Homo sapiens: one gene and its partners. The protein of the gene in region 1 interacts with the protein of each later gene in a biochemical or structural test. Each region holds a gene or a part of one and is shown on either strand. Other genes may lie near its edges.

Evidence for each region.
Region 2: of the proteins of FAM20C (region 1) and SLC2A2, one has a biochemical effect on the other in vitro, tested with the Homo sapiens proteins (one large-scale study listed by IntAct).
Region 3: of the proteins of FAM20C (region 1) and ECM2, one has a biochemical effect on the other in vitro, tested with the Homo sapiens proteins (one large-scale study listed by IntAct).

What each region holds. Positions count from the first base shown.
Region 1 is NC_000007.14:195,421-199,150, forward strand, and holds part of FAM20C (extracellular serine/threonine protein kinase FAM20C precursor), read left to right. Parts: intron 1-133; coding exon 134-312; intron 313-1,712; coding exon of another isoform or gene 1,713-2,080; exon of another isoform or gene 2,081-3,730. UniProt on the Homo sapiens protein: Golgi serine/threonine protein kinase that phosphorylates secretory pathway proteins within Ser-x-Glu/pSer motifs and plays a key role in biomineralization of bones and teeth.
Region 2 is NC_000003.12:170,999,054-171,002,720, forward strand, and holds part of SLC2A2 (solute carrier family 2, facilitated glucose transporter member 2), read right to left. Parts: intron 3,628-3,667; coding exon 3,523-3,627; intron 114-3,522; coding exon 12-113; intron 1-11.
Region 3 is NC_000009.12:92,533,891-92,537,490, reverse strand, and holds the start of ECM2 (extracellular matrix protein 2 isoform 1 precursor), read left to right. Parts: upstream 1-1,500; 5' UTR 1,501-1,558; intron 1,559-3,600. UniProt on the Homo sapiens protein: Promotes matrix assembly and cell adhesiveness.

The DNA of each region.
Region 1 (3,730 bases):
AGAGGCGCCTTCAACACATCTGCACTTGCTTGAACCCAAAGTTAAAAACACTGGCGTCGGTGCCCTCTCCCCGTCATCCGACTCACGGGCCTGTTCTTTCCATGCTGATGTTCGTCCTCGCTGCTCCCTGCAGGCCGCATGCGGGTGCTGAAGGTGCAGAATTCCTCTCCCCCGGGGAGGCGGCCGTGGACTCCTATCCCAACTGGCTCAAGTTCCACATTGGTATCAACCGGTACGAGCTGTACTCCAGACACAACCCGGCCATCGAGGCCCTGCTGCACGACCTCAGCTCCCAGAGGATCACCAGCGTGGGTAGGTGTCCTTGGGTGCACTCAGGGCCGTCTGTGTGCCGGCTGTGTGGCATCAGGGCTGCTGGGGCAGGCTATGTGTTAGAGAGGTCTGGGAGGCCGTTGCTCATTACGGCAGCGTCACCTCCTGCAGCAATCTGCACGGGCAGCGAGGAGGGACAGAGGGCTCGCGTCTCGTGTGCTCTCACACTGGATGTGCTCCTGATCTGCCGCACGATGAGCGGGGAGACGCCTGGACAGCCGGTCCACTGCGCTCTGCGTCCTCACCTGGGTGGTCCCGGGGGTGCCAACTGGATGACAGAGTCCTTCCCTCCTGGGGTAGAGGAATAGAGGGGTATCTCTGGCGGCGGTGACCCCTCCACCGGAAGCGTGTGCATGGAACTCTCCTGCTTTTCTACACACGACCCTGGCTGGGTGGGGAGACAGCCATGAGCCTGCTTCTTGTGGTTTTGAAGCCGTCCTTCGTCAGACCTCAGCAAGGCGCTGTGCAGTTTCATACTGAGGAGACATAGGCAGGGCTCAGGACGGAGGCCTGGGCCTCCCAGATGGAGGAGTTTGAAGGCAACATCTCCAGGTACTTTGGGATCTGCTGAATTGGACAAAAAAGGGCATCCAGTTGCTGATTTCAGGAAAATATGCCACTGCAGCTTCTGAGCGTGGAGGTTTGGTGCCATTGTTCTCAGCTTGTAGGCGATTGTTTGTGAAGGTCCCATTTGTCACCAGTGCTTGGAGAGGTAGTGAGGGCGGGGCTGAGGCCCTTTAGTGGGAGCAGCTGCTCCCCGGGGATTGCAGGGAGTGGGCCTGGGTGCACACAGCTGTGGGCAGGTGCAGAGGCCATGACAGCCTGAAGGCAGGGCTTTCTTTGCGCTGTGTGATGAGGCCAGCAGTCCCAGGCATTAGCTTCATGTGTGTCTCAGAAGCAACCTTGGTGCTGAAAGGGTCCCAGCAGCCTGGGGTTCTGTCCAGTTGCTGACACAGGACTTAGGTGTCCCCTTTCAGGCCAGCAGGTAGGTTCTCCTGAGCTCTTCGGGGCTGTTTCTGGCTCTCTCTGCCGGGTGCTGAGTTGTTTGCTGGGCACTCACCTGGTCATGGGGAGACAGAACTTGCAGCTCTCTCCCCACCCCTTGATCAGCTCACCTCATAACAGAGATCAGCTGGACAAGCTGGGAGTCCTCTTCCCTCCATGCTGCCTGGGAGTAACCTGAACCCCTGCCCCCCTCCAGGCCCCCCTCCGTGAAAGCGCTGCCTTTCTCCTGCCCCTGCAGCGGTCTGAGGGCTTTCAGCTGTGCTGGGGAACAGTCCTGCAGACAGCCACAGCCAGAACGTCCCTTCTGCCCCTGAGAGTGAGCATGGCCATTAAGGAAATATCCGATGCATTGATCAACATGTTTGTCCATTCAGCAGATTTTACTGGCACCTCCTGCATGTCAGACCCCCTTTCTGGGTGGTGGGGAGTTGAGGATGAGTTCAGCCTCAACGAGATCTGCTGCCTCTGTGGACCTGACAGCCCCAGGAAGAGACACACACGCACAGTGCCCGATCCTGAGGAGGAACGAGCACTTCAGAGCCGTGCACGCCAGCCAGGCCGTGTGGAGAGGAGGGGGCTCCACTGGGAGGGGCTGAGGACCTTCCACAGGGTCTGTCGGGCAGCTTACCTTCCAGGTGGGTCCGTCTTGGCAGGGAGAGGAATGAGAGAGCCGTGCACACCAGCCAGGGCGTTCGGGAGGAGCAGCACGCAAGTTAGAAAGTCCCCAGTGCCGCTGTCCGTATGAGCTTCTCTCCAGCTCATTTTCCCCATCTGTCCAGTGGGATCTCGCTGCGTGGGACCAATGCAAGGATAGGATGAGATGTGCATGTGAGCAAGCTTGTTAAATATTAACTAGTACTTTGTGCGTGGCCTTCCACAACAGTCCCCTCGTGTGCACAGGCAGGGTCTGAGCAGAGGGAGGGCTTTGTGGATTCCAAAGGCCACCAGGCCCTTGGCAGGCAACTGCAGCTCGCCACCTCCCTCACCGACCGGTCAGCTTTCCAACACCAACACTGAAGAGGTGTGGGAGTTCTGTGCCAGGAGCTCCCAGAGCAGCTTCAGGGAGAGTGTGGGGCCCCCTGGGACCTGGGGCATCTTTGCCCACCTTAGGAGTGCTTTGTCCATCTGGACAAGCTAGGCTTGGCTCACTGCCACCCCTCTTTGGTCCAGCTGTCCCGGGGCAGTGGTGCCCAGGCTGCCTGACATTGCAGGGGTGTGGACAGAGCCCTTGCCAGGGAATCCCTACCCCAGGATTCTGGTGTGGCCTCCGCCTGGGTGTGTCCTGGTTAATTCCTGTGCCTACTGAAGGCCTGCCCCAGCTGATCTCGCTCGCTCGCCTCCTAGACCATGCTGGCCACATTGGTTCTCATCCAGTCTTCTGGGGTGGGGACCCGTCCAAGGACAGGCTGGCTGCTCAGTCATTCTGCAGGGCCAAGCAGGGCCTGCAAGGACGATGGGCAGACACAGCCGCATCACCCAGGCAGGACAGCAGGCTCTGGCCCAGGAGATCTGGGGGTGAATCCTGGCTCTGCCAGCCATTAGCCAGAGTGGAAGTGGGCAAATGGATTAACGCCTCCAGCACCTGGTTTCTCACCGAGAACACAGAGAAGGTTATAATCTGGACCTGGTATAATCTGGACTCTGACTTACAAATCTGAATGCCAAGCAAAACCCATTCACTAGCGAAAACTGACTCAGGCTGAACGTATTTAGGGGCAAAACCTAAATTGTCGAGGCTAGTTAAAAGTCCTGATTTTTCTCTGTTACATTGAATAGTCACATGTTCCTCTGAGGAACAGGAGTGGGTTTAATTATGGGGTTCTGCCCTAGACCCGTGTGGGCATGCCATGATCCACACCATGCACCACGTGTGCCTTTGTCATCGAAATACCTGCAGTTCCCAAATACATCTGGCCTCACAGGGTTGTTGGGGCTTAAATGTGCAAATACGAGTAAAGAGGTGAGAGCGGAGCCTGACAGCGCACCTGCTGGGCAGGGTCTCCAACACTGCAGCATTTTGGGGGAAGCTCTCCTACTGGGTGGGGTCTTTGTACAGCAGCAGCATTTCAAGGTGGGCTGATCCTTCTCATCTGGGGAAGCCAGGGCTGGGCAGGTGCCTGAGCCTCATGAGGGTCTCAGTCTAGATGCTGGGCCCTATTCTCCCTGCTGCCTTGGGCTTGGAGATGCTCACAGGTGAGTTCTCATTTGTGAAGAGGTCTGTCTTCCTGAGGAAGCAGGGGACCCTCACCTGTGAACCAAGTGTGCCATGGGAGCTGCTCCATGTCCAGGTCCAGGTCTCCTGGTCTGCAGGGAACGGCACAAGAGGGCTGGCCTAGGCCAGGAGGATGTGATCTGTCCTAGAAGGGGGCTGACCTGCTTGCTGACCCCGCTTGCT
Region 2 (3,667 bases), on another chromosome or scaffold:
ACCAAACTTACCAGCAGCACAAGTCCCACTGACATGAAGATGGCACAAACAAACATCCCACTCATTCCAATTAGAAAGAGAGAACGTCGCCCTGCCTTCTCCACAAGGAATACCTAGGACAATTTTAAAGAAATTATCTCAGTTTTGTGAGTCACAAAATATTGACTGTTTACTTAAATCATTTTTACTGCCAAAGAGGTCATTTTAATTTATATAACAGATAAGAGGCAATTCCATCCTTCCATTTTACAGGAGTGAGATCAAGGTGGGGAGTGACTCTAGCCCCAGGTGGCAGAGCTAGTTTCAGTGGACAGCGGGTAATGATCAAATATCTGCTTAATTTAGTCACATTGGTTTGAATAGACCATTATAGAGATAGAACCATAATGTTACCACTACTCCAGGATTATCACTTTGGGTACAATATTCACAGACTGTACAGCTGGGGTCTCTTCCAATAGATGTCCTGTACATTTAAAATTTGAAGGTTCCACATTTAAACATGACATTAACTTATTTTCTAATAGTTATCCTAAGTTATAATTACAAGGGTCTGTGCACTATTGACACCGGAAACAGTACAACTGTTCAGGTGTCAACTATTCTCATCCAATTTTCTCACTGCTTAATAAAGTCCTATTATGACCACTCACCTAGCAACATGTGGAATTTGATAATTGAACCAAAATAGGCCTGCATTTTTCTGGTATGCTTAATTGTATCTTGTGCTGGGAGTGAACTATTCGTTTTAAAAGTTAGCACTTTAAAGCAAAGGGTTAAAATGCTTTCTTATCTTAACTGAGGAGATACGTCATTGATTCCTTTAGTTTTGTGGACCTTTGCATTAATGGTTAAGTTTTACAATTAGCCAAGACCAGAGTTTGTTATACTCTTGCCTGATCCTTGGAATATTACCAAGGCTGGTGAGTCACTCTCCCCCTCACCCCCCACAAAACTTCCTGTCATAATTTCTCACTTTGGCACCTGGTGAGCAAGTTGGCTGGCTCATCAGCCTATCAGTAAATCAATAGCAATCCAATGTCTTTAGTATAGTGAGCTCTGGCTCTGAAGACATCTTAGAAACATTTCACCTACAGTGAAAGCCTGTTTCTCAGAGGCACACTCATATCAGAGTTTTAAATCACTTCAGATAAGATGATAAGCTAAGAGCACATATTTAATTATTGAGAAGGAAGTTGGAAAAAACAGACTTTTCTCAAGTTCATTAAATTTCTCTCTATATTTTAACTCTTTTATTATGATGTTCAAAACTGGCTTGGTGCCACCACGTCAAGCTACCAAGAAAATAGAAGCATTTCTTTGTGAATAAGCTCCCTTACTATAAACTCTAAAACTGAACATCTTGAAAATTGAGTTGGCCTCTGTCCCTGAGGCCTGGTGTACACTCAGGATGAGTGTGACAAGGAGTGAGACATGGTCAGTGGCTGGAGATGTCTTCCCAATTAGAACGCTCATCTTTGCCCCAGGGCCTCACGCAAATCCTGGGCTCTTAGTTCCAATTTGGTAGTCACCGCTTCTTTCTCAGTGTCATCCTGCTTCCTAGATCCCTCCATTTTCTTTCTGCTTTTTTTCTCTCAAGATTACAGGCCCTCTTCTACCAGCCCATTAGTGTGGAAGAAAATATAGGATGTGGAACACAATTAGTGTGGAGTTGGGAAAGTCTCTCTTCCCAAAAACAAACTGATGTTCTTCCAATTTGGTGAAACATTAATATATTCAGTGCATATTTCTATTTGCATATTTTTATTTGAAAGTACACACACAATTTGGTAACATTGGTTAATTTTGGGGAGAGAAACTGGGTGACGGAGGGACTATCCTTTTTATACTTTTTGAACTTTAAAACAATGTTTCAAAAATTAATATAATTAAAAATTTTAAATGTGATCTGTAGTCCTGGAGGCTTAATTAATGATTTGGACTGGTTTTAAAAGATTATGTCACTTCCCTGTTCAAAAACTTAAACAGAATCAAAGGATGGACTCTAAAAAGGTACATTCAAAATAATTAGGACACTGTCTTAAACAACTCCTCCCACATCAGTGGGGTTGGGAGCAGGGTGCAAAAATGAAACTTTACAGAAGTTTCCTCTTTAGATTTTTTCAGAATTTAGGCTACCCAATCTTGACAATTTGATGCTTTACATAGAAAATCCTATTATACACAAAATGTTTTAATAATAATCTATCATAAAAAATATGTTGAAGAATTTGTAAAAAATATTCCAGGAGACAAAAGGGTGAATAGTCCCTTGGATTGCACTTCAGAAACAGGTCTTGATTGATTTAGAGTGGCCTTTTGGTTTAAACAGGCCTTATCTCTAAAGGTATGTCTACAGAACCATTGGTGTTTCGTTATTATCTGTTTTTCCTGCTCTTTCCAAGGTCCAGCACTGTTTAATGTGGTCTGGACAAACCTGCCTTTTGATCTGGGTAGCCAGGCTGTAATTTATTGATCACCCTAAGGTAATAGTTAAGAGTTCATGTGCAGAGAATAAAAAACAAGTGACTAAATTATATTGAGTATAGTATTGTGACTAAAATTGAAAAGAATAAACTTTTTGCTGTTTTTATCTTGTTGAACAAAGATAAAAATAAGCTCAATGACTCTCATTCTACAGTGAATTACATTAGTTGGGGAGTTTTTGTCTTTATTGTTGTTTGTTTACTTCTTAGATTATTATGTTAGATATTCTTGTTGTCAGGTTCTTATATATCCTTAATATATAAGAACCATCACTTCTTATATATCCTTAATATATAAGAACCATCACTTCTTATATATCCTTAATATATAAGAACCATCACTTCTTATATAAAGTTATTTGGTTTTAAGAAGAGTATATGACTTTTTTTTTTGTTGGAAGAAAACAATAACATTTCTAGTTACTATGTCACTTCCCTCATAATCTCACACATACTCTCATGCATCACCGGAAGCCACAACCTTGTGAACTACTTGGAAGCTCTGCTCAATGGCTTAATACCATTTGCTGAGTCTGTTTAACTTTGCTTAAAGGCTTAAATGTCTGTTAGAGAGGGCCTTGTTTATTTATTTTTATATGTTTCCCCCAAGGCACATGGTAAAAAAAAGAATTTGAACTATGTAAAAAGAGGAATCTAAGTAGACCATCCAATATCAATAGAAATGACAAGCTGTCAGCTACTCCCAAGGGGTTTATGTACAGAGAAAAGAAGGAACCTAGGAATCTGCACAAGGAGGAAGTTCTCTGTGTCCCCAAGTGAGTTAAAAATTCACAAATGAGTGACTAAATGGCATCCCAGCAGTGCAGAGAATCAGCGATTCACCTCAGTTATGCCTAATCTCAATGCAGTGGTTGGCTTATTCAAACAGGACTCTTCTCATGACTCACTTGGGTTTACACACTTAGAGCATGTGTACAATAAGTCATTGATTGCTTTTAGAGCCGAAGTTCCCCACCCCTCCTGCAATTTCTGGACTAAGGAACAAGCAGAGTATTTATCTAGGGCATTGACTTACAGAGACAGCAGTGAAAACCATGTTTACAGCGCCAACTCCAATGGTTGCATAAACAGGTTTGCTGATACCAGCCGTCTGAAAAATGCTGGTTGAGTAGTAAAAAATCTGCAAAGTAAAAACAGGTTAGCCTTAATCTTAAGAAGTC
Region 3 (3,600 bases), on another chromosome or scaffold:
ACGGGGTTTCACATGTTGGCCAGGCTGGTCTCAAACTCCTAACCTCAGGTGATCCACCTGTCTCTGCCTCCCAAAGTGCTGGGATTACAGGTGTGAGCCACTGCACTCAGCTAGTTTTACATTTTTAAAAATAGATATCATTTTCCTTATTTTTAGGAAGTTGAGTGGCTTATGTATTTAGTCCCTTATCTTGATTCAGTCTATCTAGGTCATTTTACAAAATCCTGATTCAGTCTAACCACGTCATTTAAACAAATATTTAGCTCCTCTTTGCCAAATGATTTGGACCCCTGAAATAACGATATAAGAATTTCAGGCCAGGTGCGGTGGCTCATGCCTGTAATCCCAGCACTTTGGAAGGCCGAGGTGGGTGGATCACATGAGGTCAAGAGTTCGAGACCAGCCTGGCCAACATGGTGAAACCCCATCTCTACTAAAAAAAAAAATACAAAAATTAATCTGGCATGGTGGCAGGCGCCTTTAAGCCCACCTACTCGGGAAGCTGAGGCAGGAGAATCCCTTGAACCTGGGAGGCGGAGGTTTCAGTGTGCTGAGATCACGACATTGCACTCTAGCCTGGGCAACAGAGCAAAAACTCCCGTCTCAAAAAAAAAAAAAAAATTTAAAAAATAGTTCTAAAATTACCTAGTCTAGGATAGGCACTGAGTTAGGACCTTCATATCTGTTATTCCTTTTATTTTCAGAAAAATTTGAAAGGTATCACCCTAGTTTTACAGAAGAGTGAACTTTGGTCAGAAACATTAAGTAACTTACTCAAGGTCCCTCATAAACAGCAGGGTTGCGCTTGGAATCCTGATCTGTCTCTAACTTCTCATTTGCAGATAAAGAAACTGAGGCCAAAGTACACAACTAATTTGCCAGCGTAACAGGTAATTAGGAGCCACACAGCTCCCTTTCACATTTTCTTTCTATTATTTCATGGTTAGAAGTTACATAATTTCCACTGATATTAATACGTAACCATTTTTTTGTTGTTGTCGTTTTGTTAGTATTGTGTGTGAGATCGAGGTGGGTGGGCAGATGAGTTAAATATTATTAATCCAATTTAAAATAGATTCCAGATATACACAGCCTTTAGCTGACGAGAATATCATCCCTATAATCTGATAAAGCTCAAGTGACATCATCCTGGCTAGTATAAACTTTAACATTTTTAATGCGAATAGTCTATGAAAACCACAGATTTCTTAATCAAGCTCATTTTTGTGTTTCCAACTCTGCCTTTTCAGCCTGCAAACAAAATGCTCTTCCCCCACACCCACTGCTGTTTTCTACTTTTCTTATGATTAAAAAAAATATTTCCCTTGGTAACCATTTTCCCTGGTTACTTTCTTGGCTGATTTTCTGCACAAAGAACTGAAAGGCATTTATCCCCAAGGGAGGCAGTTATTTTAGATTTTACTAAGAAGTTCAGCAAATACTTTTCAACATTCCCTTCTGTCCTTTCTTTGTTTTTAAAGAAAGCTCTGATTTTGTTTCATTTTCAGCTGGAGACTTAAATGACACCAAGCAAAGCCTACTTAGTTTAGATCTCCAGGTAAAAAAGTTTTAAATTTTAAGTTTCTACTTAGCATGTGGAATGGTTTTAATATTTGGGTATTTTATTTCACAACTGTTTAACTCTTGAGTAAATTAGCTCGTTACTAATAGATTTTTAAAGTTCAAAGTATGCATTATTCTGTTTGTTTTTTTCACGATGTACTTCCCAAGTATTTCAGACCTTGTATACTTAGTATTAAATTATTTTTATATGTTTAGGTGGAATTATGTGTTCAATAGAAGTATAAATTGGTTTGAAAATATTATTAATTTTTAAGTCCTAAAAGAACATAAATAATTCAAAATATTTTTCATTTTAAATCTGTTGAATGAAGTGAAAATAGATAATAGACATCTCATGACTTCATGTAGAATTTTAAAATTCTAAATTAATATTTTTAAAGTTTACTTAAGATAACTGGTAAGAAATTTTAAATGAAGAAAAATAAGTTAATCAAGGTTTATAAATAATATTTAATGTTGGGATAAACACAGTAAGTGCTAGAAGGAAAAAAATTACTTGATAAAAATGATACTATGATTGGAATCCCAGAAAATTTACCTCTAGGAGGCAAACACTCAATTACGAAGTTGTTTATGAAAGCAAATATTAAGTGCAAAGCAAAATTCTGTATATCAATGAAAATAATGAGGGCCTAAGCATTAATAGTAAAATTAGTATTGAGAGACCATTTCCTAAAATGTATTTAAACACTGTAGTGAGACTGTTTAGATACTGATTTTGTCAAAATTCAAATAGCTCTGTAAGTTTATTTCTGTGCCTATCTATTTAGATTTCTGGGTAAGTAAAAGTGAGTCAATTTGGGGGAAAAAAAGAAAGAGAGGTAGTTTCCAGAATGAGGATACTGGGAGAGAGGGGTGTGCTCAGAATGGCCACAGCTGGCACATTCACACTCCTAAGCACTCAATCAGGCAATGCCCCATAAGTGAGTGCTTTCAGGATGCCTCAGGACAGCAGGATGCCTGAGACCCTCATGAGAGTTTAACTCTAGAGCCTCGAGGTCTAGGCCCTGACTCCTCACAACAGGATGGAAGGTCTGCACATACAATTGTTAATGCAAGAAAATTTCAATGTATACATTTCATGCATTGCAGAGCACTTATGATATCCATCAGAGCACACTTGCCATGCCACTCAGCAAATTCTAGTTTCACTTTGTCTCTCAGTTCAGGTTTTCATATTGCTTTCCCCTGCTGTTGTTGTTATTCCCTTCCAACATACTACTTTGCTCTCTGAATTGACTTTTATGATTTCAGGTGCCAATCAGCTAATGGATTTGGTCCTTCTTTACATGCTGCATGTTAATTTTTCTAAAACTAAAGTAGATTGCAAAAAGTTGTTCAAAAAGTTGTTCCAGTAACCTATGAAATATAGGTCATTTCAATAACCTATAGTAATGGTTTTCAAATGACTGTGGCAATTAATGTATATATACGCTGAAGAAAGGTTTGTATGCTGGCATGAAGATACTTTAGAGACTGCCGTTTGTTGAACAAAGGTGATGTGGCAAGTCAGACTATGAACTAACTAAGTGAAACCTGACTAGAGGAAGATGATTCTGGCAGATGAAGTTATAAAAAGAAGTACTGAGATTCAAGAGGGGAAACTGAGCTGACCTTGTGCCCTCTTCCCCTCTCACCAACTCCCTTGAAATAATACAAGATATATTACAGACAAATAAATGCACGAATATACAGCTACACTAGGAAATAAAAAGGGGAGCTCCTGGTGGGACAGACACTCTGAGGAGTCCTTCACAGACAAAGAGAAGACAGAAATGAATTTAAAGAGGAAAAATGTACCCTTGAACAGTCATGGGAGAAAACAGAGTGAAGAGAGCTTGTATAGGAAAAAAAGAAGTTTTTAGTTTAAAAGATCCCAAGAAGGATACATTAAACAGCAAAAACAACCTATACCAAGGTACATTCCATTCTTTTACCAAGGTAAAACTTCCAAATATCAAAGATATGTTGAAAATTTGAAAAAAATTTCTATAGAAAGAAAAAAAATTTCTTACA